7 linked regions of the Homo sapiens genome follow. The protein of the gene in region 6 interacts with the protein of the main gene of each other region in a pairwise test. Each region holds a gene or a part of one and is shown on either strand. Other genes may lie near its edges.

Evidence for each region.
Region 1: the proteins of TLCD4 (region 6) and LNPEP interact in binary tests that used the Homo sapiens proteins (3 or more experiments, as listed by UniProt).
Region 2: the proteins of TLCD4 (region 6) and HMOX1 interact in binary tests that used the Homo sapiens proteins (3 or more experiments, as listed by UniProt).
Region 3: the proteins of TLCD4 (region 6) and SLC41A1 interact in binary tests that used the Homo sapiens proteins (3 or more experiments, as listed by UniProt).
Region 4: the proteins of TLCD4 (region 6) and TVP23B interact in binary tests that used the Homo sapiens proteins (3 or more experiments, as listed by UniProt).
Region 5: the proteins of TLCD4 (region 6) and TIMM23 interact in binary tests that used the Homo sapiens proteins (3 or more experiments, as listed by UniProt).
Region 7: the proteins of TLCD4 (region 6) and ATP13A1 interact in binary tests that used the Homo sapiens proteins (3 or more experiments, as listed by UniProt).

The regions. Positions count from the first base shown.
Region 1 is NC_000005.10:96,939,080-96,942,579, forward strand, and holds part of LNPEP (leucyl-cystinyl aminopeptidase), read left to right. Parts: intron 1-3,500. UniProt on the Homo sapiens protein: Release of an N-terminal amino acid, cleaves before cysteine, leucine as well as other amino acids. Degrades peptide hormones such as oxytocin, vasopressin and angiotensin III, and plays a role in maintaining homeostasis during pregnancy.
Region 2 is NC_000022.11:35,384,096-35,387,595, reverse strand, and holds part of HMOX1 (heme oxygenase 1), read right to left. Parts: intron 912-3,500; coding exon 420-911; intron 1-419.
Region 3 is NC_000001.11:205,806,699-205,810,198, reverse strand, and holds part of SLC41A1 (solute carrier family 41 member 1), read left to right. Parts: coding exon 1-129; intron 130-3,500. UniProt on the Homo sapiens protein: Na(+)/Mg(2+) ion exchanger that acts as a predominant Mg(2+) efflux system at the plasma membrane.
Region 4 is NC_000017.11:18,784,183-18,787,682, reverse strand, and holds part of TVP23B (Golgi apparatus membrane protein TVP23 homolog B), read right to left. Parts: intron 1-3,500.
Region 5 is NC_000010.11:45,982,489-45,985,988, reverse strand, and holds part of TIMM23 (mitochondrial import inner membrane translocase subunit Tim23), read right to left. Parts: intron 3,467-3,500; coding exon 3,373-3,466; intron 3,144-3,372; coding exon 3,059-3,143; intron 1,382-3,058; exon of another isoform or gene 1,178-1,381; intron 607-1,177; coding exon 548-606; intron 1-547. UniProt on the Homo sapiens protein: Essential component of the TIM23 complex, a complex that mediates the translocation of transit peptide-containing proteins across the mitochondrial inner membrane.
Region 6 is NC_000001.11:95,151,855-95,155,354, reverse strand, and holds part of TLCD4 (TLC domain-containing protein 4), read right to left. Parts: intron 1-3,500.
Region 7 is NC_000019.10:19,657,177-19,660,676, forward strand, and holds part of ATP13A1 (endoplasmic reticulum transmembrane helix translocase), read right to left. Parts: intron 2,812-3,500; coding exon 2,722-2,811; intron 2,616-2,721; coding exon 2,425-2,615; intron 233-2,424; coding exon 160-232; intron 1-159. UniProt on the Homo sapiens protein: Endoplasmic reticulum translocase required to remove mitochondrial transmembrane proteins mistargeted to the endoplasmic reticulum.

The sequences.
Region 1 (3,500 bases), on a different chromosome or scaffold from region 6:
TTTGCATGCAGGGTTGGTATATTTTGTAAAAACTTAAATTCATCTTAAGAAATGCAAATGCTAAGGTTCACCCTCAGAATCTGATTAAGGAGGTCTGATTATATATGAAATACATACTAGAAAGTATGTATACTTTCTTTTTTTTTTTTTTTGAGACACAGTCTCACTCTGTTGCCCAGGCTGGAGTGCAGTGGCACAATCTCAGCTCACTGCAACCTCTGCCTCCCGGGTTCAAGTGATCCTCCTGCCTCAGCCTCCCGAGTAGCTGGGATTACAGGCGCCCGCCACCATGCCCAAATAATTTTTGTATTTCTAGTAGAAATGAGGTTTCACCATGTTGGCCAGGTGAACTCCTGACCTCAAGTGATCCGCTCACCTTAGCCTCCCAAAGTACTGGGATTACAGGCATGAGCCACCGCGCCCAGCTGAAAGTATATATACTTTCTAGTTTGTGATATATTCTAAAGTATATCTAAAGGTTGGTATTTTGGCATTTTGAGGTCCCAGAACTGAAAACATAAATAGTTTTTTTTTTCATATGAATGTAGGTCCTATGAATCACTTTTATTACCGCAGTGTGGTGCATAATCAAACAAGGAGGACTTAGTTGTCTTAAAAAATTATTTTTGCTTTCATGTTCAGATTGGTATCCAGTTGAAAGTATTTTTCAACTTCAAAAATGGGAAGTCTGGGCAACAAATGAGATATTTGTGGGTTGTAATACAGTATAAAATTGTGATTCCATCTTTTAATCTTACAAATAACAATTGTTCTATAGATATGTGAGTCTTTTTAAAAAAAAATTTTTAGCATCACTTCTCAAAAATGTGAGCATACCACATTTTGTTTTTATTTTTCTTTTGCTCTATGATAAATTTCCACATTGAAAGACAACTCTTAAGAAATAGGAGCTCATAGTTTCTCTGTGTGATGGAATATAAGTTAAATCCTGTTTTTATCTTTCTGTCTTAAGTTTTTAATTTTATTTGGGGGAAATAAGACTGTTAGGAATTAAGTGTTAGCATCACTAACAATCTAGGGTTAAAGCTATAGCTAGAAACAGCCCAGTTTTTAACTGGAAACTAGTGGTAGAAAAGTTCTTTGCTATTACTTGCCAGTTTCCAAAAACTGTCTTGATACATGCATAAAAACAGCATATTTTAGAAACTCTTATAACCGGTGATTATCATTTATCTGTAGGTTATCCTTGAGAACTCAGCCTGAAAGATAGATAACCAGAGAGATTGGTTATAAGGAAATTATATAGAAAATAAGTGGTAATTTTCTGCTCAGTAATTCAATCATACAGCTATCTTTTGAATGCCCATTTACAAGTAGATTTTCTGCTAGACACAGTTACATTAAAAAAAAAAAACCCACAACCTCGTCATCAGATAATGCTTACCTAAATAAGAGAAATGAATAGAAGAACCTAGTTTTGTTGTCATGCTAATATGAAATATGGAAACACAGAAGAAATAAAAAAGCAATAAAGTTTTGTCTAAGACAGTATTCTAATTATGAAATAAATGTACAGAAACTGTTCATAACTGTTTGCATGTCTACTAATTTAGTGTAATACTCCTATTAGGAAACAGCAGTATTAACCCTGTCTATGAAAACATTAGGAAATTGAGATTTGAAAGAGTTTAGCCAAGATTACCCCAGATGTTGGGATGGACCTAGATGAGGCCTGTGGTTCTTGGCAGTCGAGGTGAGGTCAGTGCAGCTATGTTTTGTCAATTAGTCACCTCATGACTTGAAAACTGTAGGGCAGCAGTCCCCAAACTTTTCGGGACCAGGGACCACAGTCGGGGGGATGTATGTATACTTTCTAGTTTGTGATATATTCTAAAGGGGAGAAGGTTTGGGGATGACTCAAGTGCATTATATTTATTGTGCACTTTATTTCTATTATTATTGCATTGTAATATACAATGAAATAATTATACAACTCACCATAATGTAGAATCAGTGGGAGCCCTGAGCTTGTTTTCCTGCAAGTAGACAGTCCCATCTAGGAGTGGTGGGAGACAGTGACAGATCAGGCATTAAATTCTCAAAAGGAGCACACAACCTAGATCCCTCACATGCGCAGTTCACAATAGGGTTCGTGCTCCTATGAGAATCTAATGCCACCACTGATCTGACAGGAGGTGGAGCTCAGGTGGTAATGCTAACGATGGGGACTGACTGTAGAGATGAAGCTTCACTTGTTTGCCTGCTGCTCACTCCTGCTGTGTGGCCTGATTCCTAACAGGCCAGAGACTGGTACTGGTCTGTGGCCTTGGGGTTGGGCAAACCTACTGTAGGGGGCTGGAGTTGAGCTGATACTACTAGGCCTTTCCATAGTATAATTGGAGCAACCAGAAAGACACAGTCTTTTATTTATTTATTTATTATTATTTTTTTAATTTGAATCCGTAGATAAATTTCAGCAACTTTTCTGAAAGTTTGCAAGAAGCCAGGATTGAGAATGAAGGGACATTTTGGAGCCCTTGTGGTGGTACAGTTCTTTTTATATCTAGATCTTGACCTAGATCTACATATGGCCGTTATAGAGAGTGTTGCTTATTGCCTTGGTGTTTCTGGACAGTAAATGGAACATCAAGAGTTCTCTGTGTCCATGGAAGGGTGGACAGGATTCCCTTGTAACCTTATCCATTGTTGTAATTCATTTGTGATTGTCCTAGCAGCACCTGAAGGACTTTGCATTTTACAAAGATGTTTAGAGAAAATTGGAAGAGGAGAATCAATGATGAAGATGAAAGAAATGTGGAGATTGGGGGTAAAGGAAGAAGCTGATAGGCAGAGATTTTAAAAATGGTCATGCCTTGATCCTTGCAAGTCTTTGGTTCAGAAATGAGCTTCAGTTGGAGAGCAGGACACTGTTGTATGAGGTTGAAGACAGAGTCTAGGTTGGAAGGGGACAGGTAGGTAGGTCTGGTTGGATTAATGGAATTGGGGGCTCAGGGGACAAATGAGTTAAGATTGGCATTTGGGAGCCTTGCCAAGAGATAGAAAACATTTGCCAGAAATTTAAGCATACTGTCTTTTTTATAGTCAGAAAATTCAGTCACTCGTAAGTTGGGACTGTTCACTTGTCTGAATGTTTTAGATTTAAAGAAAAAATATAGCTCTTTGATAAACAACGTGGTGTGGAGCTGTGGTAAGCCTGCTCTTGCTCCTGACTCACCGCCGCTCGCTCTCACCAAAAAACAGGTTGGTCAGGAGATACAGAAAAACGCCCATGAAGCCAGAGGTGGCAATTCACTGAATTAGAATCACTCTAGGCCCAGCGCGGTGGCTCACACCTATACTCCCAGCACTTTGGGAGGCTGAGGCAGGCGGATCACCTGAGGTCAGGAGTTTGAGGCCAGCCTGGCCAACATGGTGAAACCCTGTCTCTACTAAAAATACAAAAATTAGCTGAGTATGTTGGCACGTGCCTGAAATCCCAGCTACTCGGGAGGCTGAGGCACAAGAATCACTTGGACCCA
Region 2 (3,500 bases), on a different chromosome or scaffold from region 6:
TGTAACCCTGGGAGTGCCAACCTGGCTATACACTAGTGCACACACAACTTATACATTGCCACAGACTGTTGTCACAGAGAGCTACAACTGATTCTCATGTCCCATTATGACAGTAGTGAATGTTTGAGGGCTTCCTCTGTGCCAGACACTGCTGTGGGGACTTTACTGCTGTAAATTCACTCAAGCCTTATAAGTCTAAGATATAGGTACCATTATTATCCCTATTTTACAGATAGGGAAACTGAGGTACAGAGAGATGAAGGCATTTGCCCAAGATCACCCAGCTAGTAAGTGGCAGTGCTGGAACTCTGGTTCCCTGTGTTAACCATGACCTATAGCACCCTCCCCTACAATGAGAAGGGTCCCTTGGAGGAACAACGGGGGGAGGCAGAGGCTGCCCCAGGCTGCCCGACCCTCACCTGGATGTTGAGCAGGAACGCAGTCTTGGCCTCTTCTATCACCCTCTGCCTGACTGCGGGAGTCATCTCCAGGGAGTTCATGCGGGAGCGGTAGAGCTGCTTGAACTTGGTGGCACTGGCAATGTTGGGGAAGGTGAAGAAGGCCAGGCCCTCGCCAGAGCTGGGCAGGTCCAGGGCTTTCTGGGCAATCTTTTTGAGCACCTGGCCCCCAGACAGGTCACCCAGGTAGCGGGTGTAGGCGTGGGCCACCAGCAGCTCGGGCTCTGTGCGCCCCACCTCGTGGAGCCGCTTCACATAGCGCTGCATGGCTGGTGTGTAGGGGATGACCTCCTGCCAGCGGGGCCCGTACCAGAAGGCCAGGTCCTGCTCCAGGGCAGCCTTGCGGTGCAGCTCTTCTGGGAAGTAGACAGGGGCGAAGACTGGGCTCTCCTTGTTGCGCTCAATCTCCTCCTCCAGGGCCACATAGATGTGGTACAGGGAGGCCATCACCAGCTGAAAGCAGAGTGAGCAGGTCAGGCCGCCAGCCACATAGAAGACCCCCACCTCTGTCCGTCCCGTCCACTACTGCCTTTGGAAAGGCCCTCCTCACTTCGCAGCTGGGCTCTGACTCCTTCTGCCACCCCTCGCTACAATCCTCTTCACACAGCAGCCAGAGGGGTTTTTACAAGAGGAAAAGACGATCATGCACTTTCTCAGCCTAAAAACCTTTTACCCCACTGGGCAAAACAAGCAGCCTAATTGAATCCTTATATAAAGATCTAACAAACTGGCCCAGTGTGGTGGCTCAAACCCCTGTAATCCCTGCACTTTGGGAGGCTAAGGCTGGAGGATTGCTTAAAGCCAGGAGTCTGAGACCAGCCTGGGCAACATAGCCCAAAACCCACCTCTACAAAAAATTATTTTAAAAAACTAGCTGGCTGGGGCCAGGTGCGGTGGCTCACGCCTGTAATCCCAGCACTTTGGGAGGCCGAGGCGGGAGGATCACAAGGTCAGGACATCAAGACCATCCTGGCTAACAAGGTGAAACCCCGTCTCTATTAAAAATACAAAAAAATTAGCCGGGCGTGGTGGCGGGCGCCTGTAGTTCCAGCTACTCAGGAGGCTGAGGCAGGAGAATGGCGTGAACCCGGGAGGTGGAGCTTGCAGTGAGCTGAGATCTCGCCACTGCACTCCAGCCTGGGCAACACAGCGAAATTCTGTCTCAAAAAAATAAATAAAAATAAATAAATAAATAAATAAACTAGCCAGCTGGACGCGGTGGCTCACGCCTGTAATCCCAGCACTTTGGGAGGCTGAGGCAGGCGGATCACGAGATCAGGAGTTCGAGACCAGCCTGGCCAAGAGACCAGCCTGGGCAATATGGTGAAACCCTATCTCTACTAAAAACACAAAAATTGGCCAGGCATGGTGGCAGGCACCTATAATCCCAGCTACTCGGGAGGCTGAGTCAGGAGAATTGCTTGAACCCAGGAGGCAGTGGTTGCAGTGAGCCGAGATCACGCCATTGCGCTCCAGCCTGGGCGACAGAGCAAGACTTTGACTCAGAAAAAAAAAAAAAAAAAAAAAAGCCAGGTATGGCTGTGGGGGTGCATGCCTATAGTCCCAGCTACTCCAGAGGCGGAGGCAGGGGTATCACTTGAGCCCAGGATTTCAAGGTTGCAGTGAGCTGTGATCATATCACTGTACTCCAGCTTGGGGAACAGAGTGAGCAAGACCCTGTCTCAGAAAAAAAAAAAAAAAAAATCCAACAAAGGAATTGCTATTCCCATTTTACAGAAAAGGAAACTAAGGCTCAGAGAGGGTATGAGACATGGAGGTTGCACAGCTAGTAAGAAATGAAACTAGATTGAAGACCGGGCATTGCCAGGGACCCACCATGGCTCAGGAGAGGGGAACAGCTGAAATGAAAGTGCTTAAAGGAGATTGGCCATGTGCTTCTGGCTTTTGACCTCTGCGTAACCAACTACAGGGCACAATTCTCCTTCCTGGAGGCCTATTCTGAACCCCACCACCTCTGCATGCTGGGCTGAGGCAACAGGTCTTGAGTGTACCTTGGCTTGGGGCACTAACTCCCGTTACACATTAATACGCCCGTTTAAATTTGAAGGAGAACAAAGTTAAGACATTTAGGTTGGAGTTTCTGAGTTATTTCTGAGCCACAAACATTCAAAGCAGCTCTATTCCTTGAGGGGACAGAAAGCCAGGCAGTCTGGTACAAAAGAGCCTGGGTTTTTGAGTGTGACGGACCTGGTTCTTACCCAACTCTGCCAGTCCTTAACTGTGTGACCATGGGTGAGCCACTTGCTTTCTCTGGTCCCAGCTTCCTATCCTATCCTAGAGCAGATGATCTGAGGTCCGTGTGACTGTGCTAGCCAACTGTGCTAGTCAGTTCCCTCACCTGCCACATACTAGATGGGGCTGGTGTGAGGATTAAGTGAGAGGATCTGGGCCAGCACAGAGGGCAGCCTGGCACTTAGCGCTCACATGAGAAGGGCTGTGATAAGTGCCACGTCCACCAGCTTAATGTAAGTGAGCACTGGATTCTCTCATGGATCTTGGCGCCTCCTTAGAACCCTGTGACTTAGAGGCAAAATCCAAAGTCTAAGCTGGCTGGGGATGGGATATTCCAGCATTCACCTCCCTGCACCCACTGTCTCCAGTCACACTGCAGCAACTGGGTGTACCTCATCTTTTTAAGGGAGAGGGGAGGAGGATGAGGAAGACCCATTACAGGCCCAAGGACCCCACCCAGCCTGGAACCACAGATTAAATCTCTCCTCATTAAAGCATGTCTCGGCCGGGTGGTGGCTCACACCTCTAATCCCAGCACTTTGGGAGACCAAGACGGGTGGATCATCTGAGGTCAGGAGTTCGAGACCAGCCTGGCCAACATGGTAAAACCCTGTCTCTACTAAAAAAATACAAAAATTGGCCAGGTGTGGTGGTGGGCACCTGTAGTCCCAGCTACTTGGGAGGCTGAGGCAGGAGAATCGCTTGAACTTAGGATGCGGAGGTTTCAGGGCACCGAGATCTTGCCATTGCACTCCAGCCCGGACAACAGAGTGAGACTCTGTCTCAGAT
Region 3 (3,500 bases), about 110 Mb from region 6:
GACCGTGGCCCTGCGCCACCTTCCCCGCTCAAGGAGACCTCCTTTTCCATCGGGCTGCAAGTACTGTTTCCATTCCTCCTGGCAGGCTTTGGGACCGTGGCTGCTGGCATGGTGTTGGACATCGTGCAGGTAGGACCTGAGTAGGGCAGCTCTTGACTGTGAGCCCAGGGCCACCTTTGCCTGCTGGGAAACTTGGAACTTCCTCTCTACCTCCCTGTCAGAAGTGGCTGCTGCTTCCTAGAATACTGTTTTCCTTTGGATCATGTCCTCGGTTTCTTCTTGGTCTAGTTCCTTTCTACAGAAGCCTCAAGGAAACCGAGTAGCCCTGGGGAGGTGATCAGGGCAGTATTGCTAAATAGAAACAGAATTGGCTCCCGAGCTCAGGCTTGGGAGAGGAGAGATGGAACAGGGTCGTTGCTTGCCATCTCTCCCAAGCAGTCCTGCCGAGCCCAGCTCAGTAGGAGACATTTACAAGGGTCTCCTCTTTATGCCTTTTGTCCCCTGCATTTGGGGTTTCAAGGATACCCATAGTAGAAAGCTCAGTTTCAAGCCTCTCCTCCATCCCCCTACTGGGCAGGAATTTGTTCAGCTGCCAAGAGGGTCTCAAATTAAGTAGGAAGGCTCTTGAAGGCATTTTGTGTTGCTTATCTTCCTGTAACCTTGGCATAATCCCCTTGGGGGGTGGGGGTGGGCACTTGCTGTCTGATGCATGATTTGGAGATTTGGTGTAACAAGACCCAAATGTGCTAATTATCTGCTGTAAATGGGGACAAAATGTAACTAGGCCTGGGCAGAACTGTCTCTCCTCTTTGCTCCTCACCTGTCATTCTGAACCTGCCCTGGGCAAAGAGGGTTCTTTTTGAGGACATTGGGTAGAATGAAGGATGAGAGTCGGTGGGACATGGAATCTAAGAGCCAGAGATGTGCCATGTTAATTTATTGTGAGTCAGGACTTATGAAGAACCTCCAGGTCCAAGAGTTAAAGTTTTGTTTTTAGATAAAAGTTTTTTAGGCACAGTGTGGCACACCAAACTTTTTGAAGGTGCTGGGTTTACCTAAGTAATTCAGCAATGTGTATCAAATTCCTGCTGAATGCTGGCCTCTGTCCTAGGTACTCAGAGAAATATTAATACCAAGGCAGGAGGAGATCTGGCCTTTGCTTTTTGGGACCCCCAGTGTTCCCTGACTGTGATATCTCCCAGAAGGACACGAAGCTTAGCATCACCTTCCCTGTGCCAAGCCAACCCTACAGACCATAGTGATATAGAGTTCTGCTGGTAGGTCTCACCATGCCTGTGTCCTGGGAGACTGAAGGGGGTTGGTTCTTGATAGTGTGTGCACATGGAGAACTTTGACTTGAGCCCTTCAGGGGAACCCTGCACCTTTGGTTGCTCATGAGAGTGCTGTTTAAGTCATGCCAAAGTGCCTTGCACTGCCTCCCCTTTCCCCAAAACTGTTATCTTGAAGGTTGTTCCTACATGGAGGTTGGGAAGCCAGCCTGGAGCTTTGGGTTCCTCCTGCTAGGGGCTGCTCCTCCCCCTAGGGCCGGGACTGGGACAGTAGGAGGAGGAGAAAGAGACTAGGGTAACATTTTTCTTCACCTCTTCTATTCCTTTCCTGTGGCCTCAGTTCTCATTCTTGAAGTTGTTGCATTCTGGTTTGATACCTACAAAGGGTTGCAGAGCCAGGGTCCAGAGGTGAACTGAAGAGAGTTGTCTTATTTTCTGGATAATAGTAATGGTAGTGGGGAAGCATTTGGGGGGCTCTTCGGTAGGCCCATGAGGTAGGATCCATAATCATCTCCATTTTGTAGGTAGGGAACTTGTAGCTTAGAGGGATTAGGTAACTTGTCCCTGGTCATCTGACCCTAGAGCCCACACCACTAACCCCTGTGGCCTTCGCCATGGCCATGGTTCACCAGTTGGTTAAAAACTCGGAGAGGGGGCCGAGCTCAGTGGCTCATGCCTGTAATCCTAGCACTTTGGGAGGTCAAGACGGGCGGATCACCTGAGGTCAGGAGTTTGAGACCAGTCTGGCCAACACAGTGAAACCCCGTCTCTACTAAAAATACAAAAAATTAGCTGGGCATGGTGGCAGGCACCTGTAGTCCCAGCTACTTGGAAGCTGAGGCAAGAGAATCATTTGAGCCCGAGAAGTGGAGGCTGCAATGAGCCAAGATCGTGCCACTGCTCTCCAGCCTGGGTGACAGAGCGAGACTCCAACTCAAAAAAAAAAAAACTCTGGCTGGGCATGGTGGCTTATGCCTGTAATCCCAGCACTTTTGGAGGCTGAGGCAGGAGGATCGCTTGAAGCCAGGAGTTCAAGACCAGCCTGGGCAACAAAGTGAGACCTTGTCTCTACCAAAAAAAAAAAAAATAGTCAGGCATGGTGGCATTCTCGTATAATTCCAGCACTTTGAGAGGCTGAGATAGGAGTGATCACTTGAGCCCAGGAGTTTGAAGTCGCAATGAGCTATGATTGTACCACTGCACTCCAGCCTCAGCAACAGAGCCAAACGCTGTCTCAAAAAAAAAAAAAAAAAAAAAAAGACTCTACGAGGAGCCTATTTTCTTTGTCTTTCCTTGAAGAACTGGGTGGATTAGAATCTGGATTAATTAGCGTTATCTTCTGAAGTGAGCAAGAATAAAAGTTCTTAGATGGGGTAGGGAGGGACCCCCGCATACACACCACACCCCTACCCATCCCACACACTTAGATTCCAAAGTTTCTGATGTGTTGCCCCATCCCCACTCCAGGCCCATGAGCTGGAGACATTGAGAGGCCTGGGTAGGGAACCTTTGGAGCTGCTCTCAGTGTGGCACCTCAGCTCACCTCAGAGCTAGGGTCCACTTGGTGTGGATGACAATGACAGGTTTGTCCATGTCCTCCTCCCCCAGCCTTCCTGCTACAGCTGGGCTGGAGCAGGCCCTGCAGATGGCAACAGTGAGATGGCAGGAGGGGGTGAGTGCAGAGGGACCGAGACATGGGACCACAGGGAGATTGTTATTCCACATCCATGGGAGTAAAAGGGGGACTGACAATCTCAGATTCAGGAAGAGCGGGATGGTTTCTAAGGATTCACACCTATATTACCCCTTCATAAGCTAAGATGGACTTCAGTAAGAGAATCTGAAAGTGCCCCAAGACCATGGGGCCATCTGGAGAAGCTGGCTATGGAGTGTCCCCAGCATCTTGGAGCAACTGAGCAGGAGTCCATATTGGGCCTGGTTCAGATGTCTCCTTGGTCCAGGGCCCCCATCTTTCCTTGCTGCTGTAGAAAACTTGGTTTCTTTTTCACCAACGAGATGCAAAAAAAATAAAAATAAAAAGTTGAATTTTAATTTTAATTTAAAAGAAAAAGAAAACCCACTCTCTTCCTAGAAGGGTCATTTCTGCCTCCTCTTATCTGCCCTCCCGTAAATGTGCACAGCAGCATCTGCAGTGAAATAAGGGGCTGGTGCTGGCCCAAAGTAGGAAAAGGATAAATGGACCTCCATCTG
Region 4 (3,500 bases), on a different chromosome or scaffold from region 6:
CTCTCCCATCTCCTGCCTTTCACATGTTGTCTCAGAAAACTCTTCCCTTCCTCATGCCCTGCTCACCACCAAATACCAAATCATCCTTCAAGTTTTTTAGCTCAAATACTGAAATAGCTGAAAACCTGTCTCTGAAATCCCCATGTTCCCACAGCACTTGGACGAATCTCCATTTGAACAATCATCTCAGAGTATTCTTATTGCACATCTACCCGCTCCTACCTCCATATAGATTAAGCTGCTGGAGGACCTAGAAGACAAGGTTTTTTTTTTTTTTTTTGAGACAGAGTCTTGCTCTGTCGCCCAGGCTGGAGTACAGTGGTATGGTCTCAGCTTACTGCAACCTCCACCTCCTGGGTTCAAGCTAGATTCTAGTGCCTCAGCCTCCTGAGTAACTGGGATTACAGGAGTGTGTCTCGGCTAATTAGCCTGGCTAATTTTTGTATTTTTAGTAGAGACAGAGTCTCACCACGTTGGCCAGGCTGGTTTCAAACTCCTGACCTCAAGGGATCCGCCCACCTCACCCTCCCATAGTGCTGGGATTATAGGTGTGAGCCACCACGCCCAACCAAGACTGTCTTTGCATTGTAGTAAATCCTAGTGTCTAGCAGAGCATTCAGCCAAGTGGTACAGTATTTGTTGAAGGCATGAGTAAATAAGCAAAGGAGACGATAATATACAGCTGACTGTGATCAGGGCTGAGAAATCTAAGTGCAAATGGGAGCCAGGGAAGGAAGCAAATCATTCCTACTACAGGGCACTGGAGAAGCTTTCTGGAGGAGAGTTTGTCAGCTGGGCCCTGACAGTCCGCGTAGGCCTCCCTAGACTAGGTATATTTTGAAAGGCACAGGTGGGAATACAGGAAGTTTGTCTAAGAAATGGTCAAGTAGCTCATGCAGTAAGTGATGGATGCGAGAAGCTCCTACTGAGCTAAGGCTGAAAAGGTAAAATGGATTCAGATCTATGAGACTAGTGGTTCTCAACCCTGGCTACAATTAGAATGCTTTTTCTTAAAAAACAAACAAACAAACAAAAAAAGGCTGATACTTGGGTCCAGCCCTCAGTGGTTCAGATATAATTGCTTTGAGGTGTGATCATAACGTACAGCAAGATTGAGATCCACCGTATGATGTTATGAATAAAAAGCTGAGGCCTTCTGCTCTCGATCCCAACAGTCTAATCGCCATCCAGCGGCCAGGGAGACTTTTTCACATCAAATCCTATCATTCCCCTACTGAAACCTCTCAGCACTATGACTGAAAAACAGACTCCCTATCATGACCTATCATGATCTGGTCCCTGCCAATCTCTAAGACCTTATCTCAGGCCACTCACTCTTCATTAACTGTGGTAGGCTGAATACCTCCTCACCCCTCCCAAAAATGTTTAGGTTCTAATCTCTGGAACCTGTGAATATGTAAATTTACTTGGCAAAAAGAATTTCACAGATGAGATTAAGTTAAGGATCTTGAGGTCAAGAGATCATCCTGGATTACCCAGGCTGGTCAGATGACGTGATCACAATGGTCCTTACAAGGGAAACAAAGGAGGGTCAGTGAGAGAAGGTGATGAAACAAGCAAAGTAGAGATGAGAGACAGAGATTTGAAGAGGCTGTGCTCATGGCATTAAGATGGGGAAGGGATCCCAGGTGTTTAGAAGCTGCATCAGGCAAGGAAACTGATTCTCCAGAACCCCTACCCACACCTTGATGTTTAACCCCTTGAGCCTCATTCTGGACTTCTGACCACCAGAACTTTACAACAGTACATATGACTTCACTGCCGCAGTAGCAACAGGAAATTTATACAGTACCTAAGCTCCTGCCCAGACTGGCCATTTTTTTTTTTTGACACAGGGTCTGGCTCTCGCCCAGGCTGGAGTGCAGTGGAGCAATCAGGGGTCACTACTGCAGGTCCTACATCTCAGCCTCCTGAGTACTGCAAGCCACCATATCTAATATTTTAATTTCTTGCAGAAATAGGGTCTCGCTATGTTGCCCAGGCTAGTCTCAAACTCCCGGGCTCAAGCAATTCTCCTGCCTTAGCCTCCCAAAGTGCTACGATTAGAGGCATGAGCCACCATGCCCAGGCTGGCCTTCTTTTCAGTTCCTTAAACATGCCAAACTTGGGCCCCGTCAGGTTCTTTTGCACTTATGGTTCATATTACCTAGAACACTATTCTCTTACCCTGCTCTTTGAAAGACTCATTTCTTCTCATTTATTCAGTAAATACTGAGTGCCTACCAAGTGCCAGGTACTGCTGTAAGTGGTACAGATTTAAAAAAAAAAAAAAAAAAGACAAATAGCTCTGCACTCCTGGAGTTACATTTACTAAGATGGGGAAGACCACGGACACAAAAGATTTCGGGGCAAAATCAGCAGTTTGATTTTGGACATTTTAAGATGCTAAATGACATTTTAAGATGCTAAAACCAAAAAGCGTTGAAAGGGAGATCCATTGGAGTGTTTTAAGTGTAAGACTGCATGTTCTGACTCACCTGTTAGAAAGAGAATTCTGGCTACTGTAGTAAAAATCTGGAGGGGGAGGGGAGAAGAAGGAGGGACAAAAGCACAACGCTAGGAGACTGGTTAGGAAACTACTTTAATCACGAGGCCAAGAAGTAATGGCTTGGTCTAAGATGGATGCAGTGGAGGTGATGAAAAATAGATTCCAAGTACATTTTAAGGGAGAGCTGACAGGATTTGCTGATGGACTGACTGGGGAGGTGGAGGAAGGGTAAATAAAAGGAATCAAGGAAGATTCCAAAGTTTTTGTCCTGAACAACTAAAAAGATAAAGATGGCTAAGACAGACTCCTAGCATTCCAATAATTAGAGATCACAAAGATAAGAAGGAATAGGCTGTGGGGACTGAAAAAGAAGTACCAAGGAACATAAGGTGAGCCAGGAGGGGGTAGTGTCCTGGAAACCAAACAAAGTGCCTCCAGGAGGAGGATCCATCATCTGTGTCAAATGCTGCTCATAAGTAAGATGAAAACCAAAGAGAGACCACTGTATTTTTTTTCTTTTTTTTGAGACGGAGTCTCGCTCTGTCGCCAGGCTGGAGTGCAATGGCGTGATCTTGGCTCACTGCAACCTCCACCTCCCGGGTTCAAGCGACTCCCCTGCGTCAGCCTCAGCCTCCCGAGTAGCTGAGACCACAGGCACATGCCACCACCCCCAGGTAATTTTTGTATTTTTAGTAGAGACGGGGTTTCACCATGTTGGCCAGGATGGTCTCCATCTCTTGACCTCATGATCCACCCATCCTGGCCTCCCAAAGTGCTGGGATTACAGCCATGAGCCCTGCACCCAGCCATGACCACTGTATTTTTAACAGGTCATCAGGGAACTCAGTAAGAGCAGTTCCAGTATGGTTGGGAGAGGGGAAGAGAGACTGACTAGAATGAATACAAGAGAGACTGGAAGAATTAAAAGACAAGCATATATGATACAAGTCTTTAAAGGAAAAAGAATGGAGTGACCAGTGAAAGAGCATGT
Region 5 (3,500 bases), on a different chromosome or scaffold from region 6:
TGGTATGAAAGCATAAGGCTCTGACTAAGCACTACTAAGTTACCTTTTGCCTAGAACTGCAAACGTTTTCATTATCTACAAGGAACCTATTCCAATTGTGGCAATTAGGTGCCTGAAATCTACTCAGGTAAACAGACTAATGAACCGGCTATTAAGAAAACATAGCAAGAGGGCTGGATTAATTTATCATGTATCACTACAGGACCTTGAACCTTGCCTAACATACAAAGCTCTTTACTTTGGACCTAAATTACCTGGATTTCATTTAAACATGATTTTATTGGGTGTTGTGCTTGGAAAGGAGAGTGTGCAGTGTCCAAAAGATTTTAAAAATTCAGCAATGGTATTCAGAACGGTATTAGCACCTGAGATTATTTCATAAGTTAGTTCATGGTCTTTCCCTAAGTAGTATCTACATTATGCATTGGAATGGGTTTAAACATAATTGTCTCATATCCTAGGACCAGAATATGGGTTGATCAAATTGTTCATGATATTTGTGCATTCTTTCTTTAACAATTTATTATCAAATGAGATCTCTACTTACCCAGAGAACCTAGAGTATTAGCCCAAAGTGCCCCTTGCCTAGTCACCATATTCAAAATCCTATCAGGGCAGAAAGAGAAAGAATCTGTATTTAGAATCATTATTTCTCTAGTAACCTTTAAAAACAATAATGGCTATTTAACATGTCTAGACCCAGGGCGCAAAGTTTTTTAAATTCTAAAATACATCTTAATATCTCCGATTTCAATAAGGATGGTTTTTACTCTACATAAGTGAAAATTAGGTTAAAACTTTCAAAACTTTAGGCAAAAGTCTTAAGGACTTTTATATAAGTCCTTAATAATAATAATAAGGAAAACTCTTATTATTAAATGTATAATATAATGAATACACATTAAATATATATAAGGCTTTGAATGACAGCCTGGAATGTATCTTACAGAGGTTTACAGAAACTAATCTATGTAAAAAATGCCACTGTTAACTATGGCGAGCTAGCTTCTAAAAGGTTCTTTTTGGGAGGGGAACATATGCTTAGAATGTTAAAGATAATCAAAGTAAAGAATATCAAAGTACAGAATATAAAGTAAAGAATATCAAAGTACAGAATATAAAGTAGAATTAAAGAGAAGGAATCAGCCATCTAACTAGAATACATGGGGAAAGCACCCTGTGTCTGCTCCTAGACTAGAACCAAGCAGCCAAGGTGAATGCTCAGCACACTCTCAAGGAAGCACAGTTCTGCCTTGCACCAGTGCCAGACACCACCAGAACAGTGATGGACGCAACTGGATGAAGAGAAGACATTCTTCTCCCAGCAGTGTAACATGATCCCAGGAATGGTTCTGTCCAGACAGCTGACTACTGCTGGAAATTATGGAAATACAGTAACAAAGAGTGAAGGAACTCATTCAGTTTAATTATTAAACGACTCAATTAATGTTCTACAGAAACAAAAATTTGTATTTTCTAAAAGATTGTTTTAAAAAATCAGTAATGTTTACAAACAGAAGTATATTGTTTCTAATTATGTTACATATTTACTAACATATTTTAAGTTCAGCCATCATTTTTTCATTTTTAACAAGCATTTTAATAACTTGTTTTAAGAAAGGAAGCAAGTTGTCTTTTCTAGGAGATCTACTTCCAAATTTGTATTTAATATGATATTGGGGTTTTTGTCTCAAAATAAGATGGGAGAGGAGAAGGAAATGGGATAGAACTGGCCATGGTTGATGGTTGTTGAGGATGCGTTATGGTTCATGTGTTCACTATGCTATGTATTTTGTCTACTTTTATATATTCAAAATTCCCCATAATACAAAAACTTAAAAATATTATTGAAGCGAGGGACAAGTAATAAAAATATTGAAGGATCTAGGCTGGTAAAGCATGGACAGAGATCCACACAGTAACAGGAATATAAAAAACTTAACAGGGCTAGGCGCAGTGGCTCACATCTGTAATCCCAGCAGTTTGGAAGGCTGAGGCAAGAGGATCACCTGAGCTCAGGAGTTTGAGAACAGCCTGAGCAATACAGTGAGACCCCGTCTCTACAAAAAATTAAAAAATTAACTGGGCATGGTGGCATGTGCCTGTAGTCCCAGCTACTCGGGAGGCTGAGGTGGGAGGATCACTTGAGCCCAGGAGGTCAAGGCTACAGTGAGCTGTGATGGCGCCATTGCACTCCAGCTCAGGCAACACAGCAAGGCCCTGTCTCTCAAAAAACCACACAATTTAACAGGCCTTCCAGTTTCCCATGGTCTAATTCTAGCACATCTGGTGCCATCTGCTGGCTGAACAATATGAAAGGAAGATGGAGTTTAAAGTGTCCTAAAACAAAACAGTAGCCATCGAAGAATACATACTCATGATTCCACTTACATGAAGCATAAAAATGGGCAAAACTAAACATATTGTTTAAGGAATATCAAGAGGGACTGGCCATGTTTACTTCTTAAGTTGGGTGAAAACATACTTTCCGATCCTTTTAACTGTACTTTCCCTTCTCTGTAACTTCAAGTTCTAACAGAAAACTGTGTCTTATCCTTTTGGAATTAACTCTAATTCTAAAAATTTTATTTAAAATGTATCTGGCTCATCATTTCGGAAACATAAAGTCAAGACAGTAAGAACTTCAAGTTAAATGATGGCAGCTTGAGCCATCACTCTCATGAGCTGCTTATTCTTCATTACCATTTCCTATGGATCTGCATGCCCCCAAACAATCCAAAATTCCCATTAGCAACTCAACAATTTGAAAAGCAAGTCACATAGGGTTGGAGAATGTAACAGGTGCAGCTGAGAAGTCAGGCTGGCATAGCACTAGCTGACTGAGGGACACTGATTAAAAAAATCACTCCTTTTTAAAAGCTTAGAGTCAGTAATCTGATTCCTTAGTTGCTTTTATTTTGATTAAGATTAAAAAACAAAGACAAAAAAGCACATAACTATGCTAACCATCTGTAATCTCAAGGTTGTACTCATCAAACCAATACAACAGAGCTTAATATTCAAGTATCACTACATCAGATGGTTACAAGAGACTTACTGTACATTTCTTGGTTTGGACCAGGCCATGTTCTGGGTTTCCTTCAATCCTAGCCGAAGACCATTCATTGCACCAAACGCAGCCCCTGGTAAATCATAACAATTCACCCAGATAAAGACAGCTTTATATTAAAAAAACAAACTCAAATCTGCATAACTACACTTCTGATTCTTTTTCATTTTTATTTAATAGAAAAAGACAAATGTAAATATTAAAAAAAAAACCCTGAAACCAACATTCTAATTGCTTTTGATTTTACGCACCCTCAACTACTTGAACTGAGCACTCTTGAGAAAAAAGTATGTAACACTCACCTGTCATGCAACATCCTCCAATCGTAAAGAAGGCCAGCTCAAATCTGCCCCGGGTTTTATTAGCTCCGGTAGGTAAAATAAACTCATCTGTATCCTAAAAGGATAATAATGAAAACCAAGCTGAGTGT
Region 6 (3,500 bases):
GAGCTTTGCATAGAGTAAAATCTACATTTGCCATGGCCTCTGCATGACTGTGAGGGGAAACAAAACAGGATTTTTCTGATCCCTTCCGCAGCTTAAAAGAAAATTCTCCTTTTAGCAAGCGATTATGGAAGTCTGGATTTTCTTACTATGGGAAATTTTTCTACCAGCTAAGAGTGGCTAAGACCAGAGGTTTATAAGGTGGGGGGGAAAAGAGAACTAAATTATGCACCTACTACTGCTAGTATGGTACTAAATACTGACTGTTCTACCACCAAAGGCCTGGACAGAAATGGGCACCCTTTCCCTACTATACTACACTACACTGCACTGCACTGCACTACACTACACTACGACTATATGTTGGTAGGAAATAAGTTCTGGGCATCCCAAATTGGAATCCTGTGTAAAAACGTGACCGTGTTCTATAGTGGCAATGATGGGGCATTTTTTAACAGGTAATAGACTGACCCAGAGTCTCAAGCACATTTCAATTGTGCTTGAGACTCTGGGTCAGTCTATTACCTATTAATGGAAACCGTTTCAGGGTACCATCAACCTAGAATTGAGGTTTGGAAACAAAATCTATTACTATGTTTAATAATTATTTGCTTAATTGTAATCATTCAAGGTTTTTGATTATTTGCTTATAAGACAGAGATGAAGGTTTGAGCTAACACACAGGACTGGACTGCCAAATCAGACTCATGTGAAACAGTGTTCCTACCTAGCATTAAGCTCTACTAAATGTTACAAAGATAGAGACCATCAAATAATTCAAATGAAGCAGAGAGAGGTCTGGGACATCAAGGGCCACTGGCAACCCAGTTATTTATTTCCTTGCTGTGTGCCTACATGACCTTCTCCAATGAGCTGTGCCTTATAGATACTGGGTTCTCTTTACTATAGGTAATCCTTACCCAGGGACACACTGCTAAGGGCATTTCAGAGTTAATGTTTCTTCTTCCTAACAAACATCAGTACTCAATTTATCCTAAGTCCTGTTGACAAGGAGATTAGACTGGGCCACGTGCCTTCTTTTTCTCCCCTCCTGTCCCCCAAGGAAGTGAATGGATTGGCAGGCCAGCTGCTTTCACCTCTTCCTCCTAGGGTTACTTAAGAACTTGGTGACATAACTTAGCTTATTGTTAATTCCCCCATTGTCTAGTTCTCTTGCATCAGAACTAAATCAAATCATTTCAACAAAACAGGTGCATCACAGAATCTCAGAATTAGAATAGAACCTTAAAGATTATTTAGTGCAAGCTCCTACCTAAAGCTTCTGCTGATTGTATCTACTTTTATATCTATCTGACTAAAGCTATCTTATGGTAGAATAGCCACTTTAAAAGGCCTTTCCATTGTGATAATCTTCCAATCACTGAGGATGTCTTTCTTCCATAAAATAGAAGTCTCCCCTACCTCTCTTTACCACCCCATTGGTCCTAGTCCCAACATCAGAATCAATCCAGAATAAGTCTACTCCCCCTTCCACTTAGTAGTCCTTTCACATTTCCAGGGACATTTCAAGGCCATCATGTCCTTATAGTTCTTAGCTTTTCTAGGCTGACATCTCCAGGTCCTTCAATTGTTTGTTATAAGACAATAGCTACCTAATCTAATATCTCCTCTCTACAGTTAACTAGCAGCTCTCTTCCAGATACATGCAAGTTTAGGGACTTCAGATGATGATGGTCTTGGATGTGGTCTGACTGGGCAAACTACGTGTGAATTGGATACCAGGCCTCCTCTAATAGAATCTAAATTTGAAAAAGCTTTCTGTTTTAGCAGATGTGATAAATTGGCATAACTGAGATGCAATCATCTACCACCTCCAGGTCATTCTTTATCCTTATGCATCGTTGAACCTAAATGCAAAACTTAACATTTATCACTATTAAGTTCCACCCATTTGTTTCAGTTTATAGTTAGGATGAAGCCTTTCTAAAAATGTAATAACATTGTCCAATATGTTATTAGTTCTCCTTCCTAACTTTGTTTCAGTTATCTCATAAGCTTGCTTTAACATTTTTATTATGGCAAAATATATATGACATAAAATTTACCCTTTTGACAACTTTTAAGTGTACAATTCAGTGGCATTAAGTACATTCATTTTGTTATACAACCATCACCACCATCCATCTCCAGAACTTTCCATATTCCCAAATGGAAACTCTGTACCATTAAACAGTAATTCCCCATTATCCCTTCTGCCCAGCCAGGATCACACCACTGCACTCCAGCCTGGTGACAGAGCAAGACTCCATCTCAAAAAAAAAAGAAAATAAATAATAATAATATGGTGGGCTTGGAAATTGATGCATATTGAATGATTTTCAAGTTTAAATGTTTTCCAAATATATTCTAACTCATTATCTAAAGGCATGGTTTAATTGGAGAAAGAAGTGATTCACAAGGAACACATACACAAAAAGTGAAGGCTATCAATGTAGTCAGAAAGGGTGTACAAAGGATGGTAGTTTGTCCTTAAAAATTGAGGATTAAAGCATAAATGTGTTCATTTCTCTTAGAATAAGAGATCAGCTTGTCAGGTTTATTTGATAATTAGTATCCTGCTCCAGGGGTGAAAGATGAGTATCAGGAAAAAAGGCTGTAGGATTTGTACCTCTCTATATAGACAGAAGAGGATTCATTAAGCTCTAAATTACTTTGCCAGAGAATTTCAAAACGTCAGTAAATATAGTAGAAAGATACAAAAATAGCAATCAAGACATTATATAACCTATAATACCTTAAATTCCAAAGAATCTTACTTTTCAACTATTTCTTCAGTAAGGATACATTTTAAAACTGCAGGGAACTTGCTTCTATTCATCACTTTAAGTTTTACTTTGGTTCTAATAACAAAATCATTTAAGAAAAAAAGCTTACTGCAAACAGCTTAAATGGTTACATAAGTATTAAGTCAAAGTGCTTTCCAAATACAAGTTCTCATTATTGCATAAGTGATAAGAATTTCATGATCATTTACCCCCCCAAAATTATAATTATTATTATTTTTGTTAGCTTTACTTGGAATAACAAAATGCACAAAATGACCTGGGAATTCACTGCATAGAAAAAAACCTTCTTATAGTCAATGAGTAACTACTGTAAGATTGGTAAATAACATAGGATCCTTATAGCATCTGTTAACATTCATCATTTCATCTAACTTTTCCTATTTTGTTTCCCTATGAATAGATTCACTTTAAAAGACAAATTTTAAACTATAACAACAGAACATAGACATATCAAAAAAGCAACCATCTTTATGAAAAAAATTGCAGTTGCAATATCTACCTTGAGCTTGTTGGTATATTTATGTTGAAAAACAATTGATTCTAGAGAAACCTAACAAACATACAAGGAATATAAAGTTGCTAGTTTACATATGTATATGTAGAAATTTTAGATATATAATTTAATATGCTTTACTGCCTGAGATCTGTTGGAAGAATCCTCTATTAACCTTGGTCTTGGAATTCTGAAAAAGTCTG
Region 7 (3,500 bases), on a different chromosome or scaffold from region 6:
GCCCTACCCGCCCTGTTCCCATGAGCCCCTTCCACCCACCGGATCTGATATGTGAGGGTGGGGAGAGGCTTCCAGGTTTAGAAGTGGTGGGCAGGCTTGATCCGGTTAGGAAAGCCCCAAGGGAGGAAATGGGGAGATGGGCCAGAGCTGCTGCTTTACCTGAAATACAAAGAAGGGGGCTGTGGCTCTCTCCTTGAAAAGCTCCGAGAAGTCAGGCACCACCATCTCGGCCCTGCAAGAGACCAGGCCCCATCCTGTTCCCAGGGCAAGGCCTCTGGGGTATGGAGTCTCCACCCTGACCCCTCCAACCTGAGCATGGCAGGCCGCTCTCAAGAAACCAAGAGCCATATGTGGGCGTCGGGAGCCCTGGCGAGCTTCCAGATAGGAGGATCCATTTGGCAGTGGCTCTCCCTCATCCTGGCTGAGCCTGGGGTAGACATGCTGCCCGCCCACAGCCCTCGGCTCTGCATAAAACAGATGAAGCTCCTTAATCTGCAATATGCTCTTCCTGGCAGCCTGGGGCTGGTGTCAGACGAGAGCCCGTCATCTGGTCGAGTGACACAGCAAGTAGAGAAGGAACCTCTGATTGAAAGATGGAGGCCCTGAAGCTACAGACAGCAGAAGACACTGAGACCCAGCCCCACCAAAGCTGAGATTTTCTATGATTCCTGAATTAAAGCCCCAGAATGGGTCGAGTAGGGTGGTTCACGCCTGTAATCCCAAGCACTTTGGGAGGCCGAGGCAGGAGGAGTGCTTGAGCCCAGGAGTCAGAGACTAGCCTGGGCAACACAGCAAGACCTTCTATTTACAAAAAATTTAAAAATTAGCTGGGGGTGGTGGTGTGTGCCTGTGGTCCCAGCTATTTGGGAGGCTGAGGCAGGATGAATGCTTGAGCCCAGGAGTTCAAGGCTACAGTGAGCCATGATCACACCACTGCACTCCAGCCTGGGTAACAGAGTAAGACCCTGTCTCCAAAAAAAAAAAAAAAAAAAAAAAAGGCTCGAGAATGCAAGGACTTGGGCCTAAGGGTGTGTTCTGCAGTACTCTGTGCCATAGTCCAATCTGATCAGGGCACCAGTCATGTCAACGAGGGTCATTCTCGCTCTGCCCTTTAACTGCATGGACGTCTTATGTATGGGATGTGAGAAGAGGAAACCAAAGAGCAACCCCACTGCTATCAAACAATAAGCCCTTCCCTTGTATCTTGCTGGGTACCTTTGCGTTGAGTAAGAACAGCATGAAAGGGAACGTAGTTGCCACAGGCCATTAATGTGACTGGCCAACCTTGGGGTAGGGGAAGTTGCTAAATGTTTCTTATAAATCCTTGTATTAGATTGATAGTTGTAGTCAACATATTTGTAATCTCTGAACAGTGATTAAGTCAGGAAAGAGCTCCCTAGGTGTTCTGTGGGTTTCTGGGTTGAGGACCATCGTAACAAGGCCATGATGGGGTTTGGAGCCCAGTTCTCCGGCTCCCAGCCACGTGTCAGCATTTGCAGTTTTGGTGAAGATGAAGGGAGAGGGTGTGCACCGCACATTGGCCATTGTACTCAGTACAAAAGGGCAGACATGGTCACGGTCTTCCATCACCATTCTGAAGCGCTGAGATGCGTAGACTCGAAACAGTGAGGACTGAAATGTTTAGGTTGGGTGCAGTGACTCATGCCTGTAATCCCAGCACTTTGGGATGTTGATTTAGGAGGACTGCTTGAGGCCAGGAGTTTGAGACAAGCCTGGGCAACACGGCGAGACCCCATCTCTACACAAATAAACATTTTAAAAGAATTTAAAATAAAGCTGTTGCTGAGGAGGGGCCACAGGCTAGACTCCTGTGAAGAACCTTACACTCAAGGTCTCACACCCCAGGGCACGGGCTTCCAGCTGCAGACCCTCTGGGGTTCCTGCCAGCAGGCAAGTTCAGGGGAGACTGGACTTAGAGCATGTTGCTCAAGCGGCATCACAGTCACCTGGGACATTTGGCTAAAAGGGCAGATTTGGCCGGGTGCAGTGGCTCACGCCTGTAATCCCAGCACTTTGGGAGGCCAACATGGGAGGATCACCTGAGGTCAGGAGTTCAAGACCAGCCTGGCCAACATGGTGAAACCCCCATCTCTACTAAAAATACAAAAATTAGCCAGGCGTGGTGGGGGGAGCCTGTATTCCCAGCTGCTTGGCAGGTTGAGGCAGGAGAATCACTTGAACCGGGGAGGCGGAGGTTGGGGTGAGCTGAGATCGCGTCACTGCACTCCAGCCTGGGTGACAGAGCGAGACTCAGTCTCAAAAATAAAAAATAAAATAAAAATAAAATAATAGTAAATAAATAAATAAAAGGGCAGATGCCTCTGTCCCGCTTCCTAGGCACCCTGAATCAGGAGGGGAGCAGGACAGAAAGGCAAAGGTGCTACAGGCAAATCAAGGACTCACTTGTTGCTCCCAAATTTCTTCTCAGCTGCTCGGATCTCTGAGTCTTCCTGGAAGCCTCTGTTGCTCTGATAGTATGAGAAGGCGTTTCCCACAGGAAAGGCCACGGGGAGAAACTGCTTCTTCTCCAGGGCATCGTAGGAATACTTGATCTTCTGGAATTCGAAGGACAGCACCTCAAGCCCGTCTTCGCCCTGCGGTAGAAGGTGTGTTTGCCACAGAGGCCCCTGACCTTGGGGTGTCAGCGCCTGGGAATCCTACTCAAGCCCCTCCTCCAGGAGCCCAGCAGGCAGTCCCTACCTCATTGCGGTGCAGGGCCACGAGCTCCGTGGAGCCATTGTTGGGGGTTGGCACCACCTTCACAAAGGTCGCTTTGCTGGGGTCGTACTCCTGACAGAGACAAAGAAAGCATTGTGGCTTAGCTCTTCTCAACCTACAGTTCCAAGACCCCCCCGGGAGGTTTTGGGTGCAGCAGCTCTATGGGTATATTCTGAAATGCCACTGGGCTCTGGTGCTGCCTCTGTCACTCCCTCGTCTGTCATCAGGACAAACGAGACCATCTTGCTGTGCCTCTGGTGCCACACTTAAAGCTGGGAGCACAAGGCTGGGCACGGTGACTCACACCCATAATCCCAGCACTTTGGGAGGCCAAGGTGGGCGGATCACTTGAGATCAGGAGTTTGAGATCAGCCTCGCCAATGTGGCGAAACCCTGTCTCAACTAAAAATACACAAATGAGCCGGACACGGTGGTGCACACCTGTAATACCAGCTACTTAGGAGGCTGAGGCAGGAGAATCCCTTGAACTGGGAGGCGGAGGTTGCAGTGAACTGAGATTGCAACACTGCACTCCAGCCTGGGTGGCAGAGTGAGATCCTATCTCAATTAAAAAAAAAAAAACAAAAAACCAGCCAGGCACAGTGGCTCGCACCTGTAATCCCAGCACTTTGGGAGGCCGAGGTGGGCAGATCACGACGTCAGGAGATTGAGACCATCCTGGCTAACACGGTGAAACCCCATCTCTACTAAAAACACAAAAAATTAGCTGGGCGTGGTGGCAGGCATCTGTAGTCCCAGCT